Regions from separate parts of the Homo sapiens genome. Here region 2 is linked to region 1. Evidence: fine-mapped expression QTL. A gene starts in region 1. The other region holds a variant in brackets. All regions are shown on one strand. Distances are between the middles of the regions.

What was found. PIP is the estimated chance that this variant, and not a neighbour inherited with it, causes the effect.
Region 2: its variant is fine-mapped to the expression of BTBD2 in thyroid (GTEx, PIP 0.92).

Annotation. Positions count from the first base shown.
Region 1 is chr19:2,014,050-2,016,939 of GRCh38, reverse strand. BTBD2 (BTB domain containing 2) reads left to right here and starts at 1,226. Exons shown (of 9, transcript NM_017797.4): 1 at 1,226-1,643. The coding sequence starts at 1,237. LOC107985278 (a long non-coding RNA gene) reads left to right here. Exons shown (of 4, transcript XR_001753845.2): 4 at 1-595. RefSeq lists silencers at 1,420-1,569, 1,580-1,629.
Region 2 is chr19:1,985,215-1,988,104 of GRCh38, reverse strand. It overlaps BTBD2 (BTB domain containing 2), which reads left to right. Exons shown (of 9, transcript NM_017797.4): 6 at 413-605; 7 at 852-939; 8 at 1,129-1,275; 9 at 1,456-2,657. The coding sequence ends at 1,617. It overlaps LOC124904610 (a long non-coding RNA gene), which reads right to left and starts at 413. Exons shown (of 2, transcript XR_007067086.1): 1 at 1-413. The variant T/C (reference allele first, on the strand shown) is at 1,649.

The DNA.
Region 1 (2,890 bases):
ATGATGGGGTTTCACCAGGATGGTCTCGATCTCCCGACCTGGTGATCCGCCCGCCTCGGCCTCCCAAAGTGCTGGGATTACAGACGTGAGCCACCGCGCCTGGCTAATTTTTGTATTTTTTGTAGAGACAGGGTTTTGCCATGTTGCCCAGGCTGGTCTCCAACTCTTGACCTTAGGTGATGCACCCCCCGCCTTGGCCTCCTGAAGTGCTGGGATTACAGGCGTGAGCCACTGCGCCCGACCTGGTTCCTCAATCTTTGTGGCATTTGTCTACCTTGACATTATGTATGTAGTAAGCGTTTTGGGGGAGTCCCAGCTCCGTCCACACTGACCACCCCCCACACCTGGCCTGGAGAGGGTGCTGGGCGTCTGCTGAGTGTCAGTGCACGTGGCCTGCATCCTGCTCGCTCATCCGCAGCTTCCCGGCCTCAGGCTATGTCTCTGTACAGCGGAGCCTGCGCCACGGAGCAGGCCCGCCACCTGGGTCCGGGGTCTGGGGTCTGGAGTTTGCGCTTGGTCTTTGGGTTGGGGGTTCCGGGTCTGAGGTATGGGATCTGGAATCCGGAGTCTGAAGTCTGGGGTTCAGAGTCTGGGATCTAGGATTCAAGGTCTGAGGCCTGGGATCCCGGACTGAGGTCTGTGCTCCAGGGTTTAGGATTCCCGGTCTGGAGTCTGGGGCCTGGTGCCTGGACCCCAAATTCTGGACCTCGGTCTGGAGTCTGGGCTTCAGGTCAGGATGCTTAGGGAGTGGAGCAAGAGGTCTTCCACCAGCTCCTCCCCTCTACAGGCCCCTCCTACTCTTCCCTCTCCTCCCCGTCCCCTCCCCTGCAACAGCCTCCCCCATTCACCTCCCTTCTCCCCTCCCTCCTCCCCTCCCACCTCCCCTCCTTTCCCCTCCCTCTCCTCCCCTCCCTCCTTCCCCCTCCTTTCCCCTCCCTCTCCTCCCCTCCCTCCTTCCCCCTCCTTTCCCCTCCCTCTCCTCCCCTCCCTCCTTCCCCCTCCTTTCCCCTCCCTCTCCTCCCCTCCCTCCTTCCCCCTCCTTTCCCCTCCCTCTCCTCCCCTCCCTCCTTCCCGCTTCCCCTCCCCTCCCTCCTCCCCTCCTTTCCCCTCCCTCCTCTTTTCCCCTCCCCTCCCTCCTCCCCCTCCTCCCCCTACTCTCCTCCTTTCCCCTCCCTCCTTCCCTCCTCCCCTCCCTCCTTCCCTCCTCCCCTCCCCCGCCCACGCCGCAGCCACAAAATGGCGGCGGGTGGGAGCGGCGGGCGTGCGTCGTGCCCGCCGGGGGTCGGGGTCGGCCCGGGCACGGGGGGCAGTCCCGGGCCCAGCGCCAACGCCGCCGCCACCCCGGCCCCCGGCAACGCGGCCGCCGCCGCCGCCGCCGCCGCCGCCGCCGCCGCCGCCCCTGGGCCGACGCCGCCCGCCCCGCCGGGCCCCGGGACAGACGCGCAGGCCGCGGGCGCGGAGCGGGCGGAGGAGGCGGCGGGCCCGGGGGCGGCGGCGCTGCAGCGCGAGGCCGCGTACAACTGGCAGGCCAGCAAGCCCACCGTGCAGGAGCGCTTCGCCTTCCTCTTCAACAACGAGGTGCTGTGCGACGTGCACTTCCTGGTGGGCAAGGGGCTCAGCTCGCAGCGCATCCCCGCGCACAGGTGGGCGCCCCGACCCCGCCAGCCCTGGCCCCGACCCACCCAGCCTGCTGCCCGGGCCCTGCACCTGAGGCCCTGCACCCCTCTGTCCCCGAGACCCCCGCACCCCTCCATCCCCGAGCCCTGCACCCCTCTGTCCCCGGGACCCCTGCACCCCTGCATCCTCAGGCTCCGAACCCAACTCGGCCTGCACCCCGGGGCCTGCACCTGAGGCCCTGCACCCCTCTGTCCCTGGGACCCCTGCACCCCTCCGGTCCTGAAACCGACCCGGCCTGCACCCCGGGGCCTGCACCCTTCCATCCCTAGACTCCACCCAGTTCCCTGGGCTCTGCACCCCTCTGTCCCTGCCTCTGCACCTCTCTGTCCCCAGACCCCACCAGGCCTGCACTCTGGGCCTCTGCACCCCTCCATCCCCAGGCCCCCCTGGATCCTCCACCTCTGGCTTGCGCCCCCAGCCTGTTCCCCGGGATCCCAGGCCCTGTACCCCTGGGACCCCTGCTCTCCTCCGTCCCTGGACCCACCCAGCCTGCACTCCGGTACCCTCCGTTCCTGGGACCCTCCAACTCGGCCTGCACTTGGAGCCCCTGGGCCCCTCCATCCTCAAACCCCACCCAGCCCGCACCCCAGAACCCTGAATACCCCATCCTCAGGGCCCTCCACCCCCCGCCTGCACCCTAGGACCCTCCATTCTTCCATCCCCAGGACGCTCCATCCCTGGACCTCACCCCTCCCTGCACCCCAGGTCCCCAGACACCTCTGCCCCCAGATCCCTGGGCCCCTCCACCTCCGGCTGGAACCCCTGCCTACACCCCAGGCCCCTCCATCCCTGGACCCCACCTGGCCTGCATCCCTGGGTCCCCTCCATGCCCTGGCCCTGCACCCCCACCCACCACCCCTGGGACTCCTGTGACCCTCCAACCCTGGGACGTGTACCCCTATCTGCTCCTCCATTCCCAGGACCCCAACCCACTGTTTCTAGGACCCATGACCCCACATGCCACACCCCTCCATCCCTATACCCGGGGATCCTCAGGACCCCTCCATCCCCAGGCCCTGCACCCTTGCCTGCCGCCCCTCTCCCCCTGGGACCCCTACTGGTGACCCCTCCGTCCCTGTACCCAGGGACTCTCCAGGACCCCTCCTTCCCCAGGTCCTTCACCCCTGCCCACTGCCCTTCCACTCTCTACTCCCGGGGCCCCCTGGGACCCCACTACACTCAAGTGTGTCACCCCTGCATCCCAGGATGGAGA
Region 2 (2,890 bases), 29 kb after region 1:
CCTGGGGGGTACAGGCCTAGCAGGGAGCCACAGTGACCCCTCCCAGCCAATGGCCCTGAGAGAACAGGCAGTGGAGCCCCCCGCCCCCACCCACAGTGAAGTGACGGGTGGTCCCTACAGTGGGGCCAGACCCTGAGACATCACCCCTGAGTGAGTGCATCTGTCAGACCCTGAGGCATCGCCCCTGAGTGAGCGTATCTGTCGGCCTCTGGTCTGTGCCCTGGGACCTCTCCCTAAAAGCCCAGGCAGCAGGGGCCATGGCTGGTGGCTAGTCCCCCGGGGAGGGGCTGCCCAGGTCCCTGCACCTTGAAAGTCCGACGCAGACATCTTAGGGGGAAGGAGCGTGTCCTCCCAGGCACTCGGGATCCTGGGGTGCAGCCCGGCCCTCCCCCACACCCTCCCTGTGCTGCAGGTCCCGCACAGTCGGGCATCCTGGTGGACCGCGAGGTGGTCAGCCTCTTCCTGCACTTCACCGTCAACCCCAAGCCACGAGTGGAGTTCATTGACCGGCCCCGCTGCTGCCTGCGTGGGAAGGAGTGCAGCATCAACCGCTTCCAGCAGGTGGAGAGTCGCTGGGGCTACAGCGGGACCAGTGACCGCATCAGGTGGGGCTTGGGGTGCAGGCGGGGGGGTCCGGACATGGGGGTGGAGGACTCGGGGATGACGGAGATGGGGGGCCGGGCATGGGGGTGGAGAACTCAGGGATGATGAAGACGGCGGGGGGGCCGCCGGGCATGGGGGTGGAGGACTCAGGGACGATGGAGGGGACCGGGCATGGGGGTGGGCTCGCCCCAGCTCACCTTAGGCTATCCCTGGGTATCCACGCTGCTGCCTGTCATCTGCCACGGCAGGTTCTCAGTCAACAAGCGCATCTTCGTGGTGGGATTTGGGCTGTATGGATCCATCCACGGGCCCACCGACTACCAAGTGAACATCCAGGTACCAGCCCCAAGCCTCATCCCCAGGCCCCACTCAGGCCCATGTCCTCTCTCCACCTCCATGGAACCCTGGCTGAACCCCCGGCCCTGGTCCCTGTGCTGCCCCCACCCTGGGCAGGTGGGCTGGGCCTCGAGGGGTCCCCGTTGGCCCTCCCCAGGCCTGAGCCTCCCACTTCCCACCTCCCCGCAGATTATTCACACCGATAGCAACACCGTCTTGGGCCAGAACGACACGGGCTTCAGCTGCGACGGCTCAGCCAGCACCTTCCGCGTCATGTTCAAGGAGCCGGTGGAGGTGCTGCCCAACGTCAACTACACGGCCTGTGCCACGCTCAAGGTGCGCCGCCGGGGACAGGGGTCCCTCCGTGGGAGTCTCTGGCCCATCCTGAAGCCACCGGGGCACAGCACACACTCTCCAGAGGCAGCCACCCTGGCCCAGTCGGGGCCTTGCCCTGTCCACACCTGGGGCATCCCAGCCTGGTGGTCCTTGACCTCACTGTACCCCTATTCCCTACAGGGCCCAGACTCCCACTACGGCACCAAAGGCCTGCGCAAGGTGACACACGAGTCGCCCACCACGGGCGCCAAGACCTGCTTCACCTTTTGCTACGCGGCCGGGAACAACAATGGCACATCCGTGGAGGACGGCCAGATCCCCGAGGTCATCTTCTACACCTAGGCTGCCCGACACCGACACCGCCCTCCCTCCG[T/C]GGGGATAGCCGCAGCCCCAGGCCATCATCTGCTGCTGGGGCCCCCCCACCACGCGGTGCCAGGCCCAGTGTCCCCCAGGCCGTCTGTCCACTCCATGCCACCTTTCTCAGCATCAGGACGGGGTTGCCCTGTGTTCACCACGAGTGTGGCTGCTGGATCAGGGCAGCCGGGGAGGTGGCCAGGCCAGTGGCCAGGCCCTGTGGAGACAATCCCTCAGGACTAGGGACAGGGCTGTGCCGGCCTGGGCCAGGGCCCACGGACCCGCAGCTCAGGGCGCCTGCCCACGTCGTCTGCCGGCGGTGCGCCGCGGGCGTCCCTCGCGTCTCTTCACTGCACATTGCAATGCATTTGCGATTCCCATTTCTCTGCTAGGAGCCAGCCTGGGTGGCGCTGCTCCCAGAGCCGTGGGTCCCAGACCTTGCGTTCCTTTTGTTCCTGTCCGTTTATCAGGACACGGGCCCCACCTGTCACGTGCCCGAGGCCACCCAAGCCCAGCCTGCGGGGCGTTCCCACTGCCTGGATGCCGGCTTGAGTTCTGCGCACGCAGGATTCAGTGTGGGGACGGCCCCTGCCGGATAGGCCTAGCCCTGGCCCAGGTGGTGAGCGGTTTGCAGTGTCCGTTCTCATCCACCTGATGGGCCCAGATAAAGGCCCCCGCTGTCCAGCCTCCCTGGACGGCCCTCGCGGTCCCTGCAGCCCAAGATGGGACTCAGACCCTGTGCCCCAGAGCTCCCCTGCCGCAGAATGGGGCCCCAGCCGGCCCCGACCGGGTCCAGGAGCACTGCTCGCCTGTACATACTGTTGCCCTAGCCCACCTGGTGCCGTGGGAGCCACCCCCAGGTGCTGGGGGCACAGCCCCTCCCCACTCCGGCCACGCCCCCACCCACCCCGCGTGTTTCTGCCCTGTGACTCCTGGAACCTGCGTCCTCCCCAAAGCCATGGGAGGGGTGTCCTCCTCAGACCATGCCCCCAGATGATTTTTTTAAATAAAGAAACAAATGCACCTGCCTTGAGCGCACACTGCTTTGCTCCCCTTCACTCTCTGCCCTGTCATCCGGGCTGCAGTGGGCGAGGGATGTCGTGCGCCGAGAGGGGCCCTGAACCCCGGGTCTGGTCGCCAGTGCTGCGAGACCCTCCTTAAGTACCCACAGGCCACACTGAAGCCCGGGAGGTCGAGACTGCAGTGAGCAGTGATGCACCACTGCCCTCCCCCCTGGGCAAGAGCAAGACCCTAACTAACT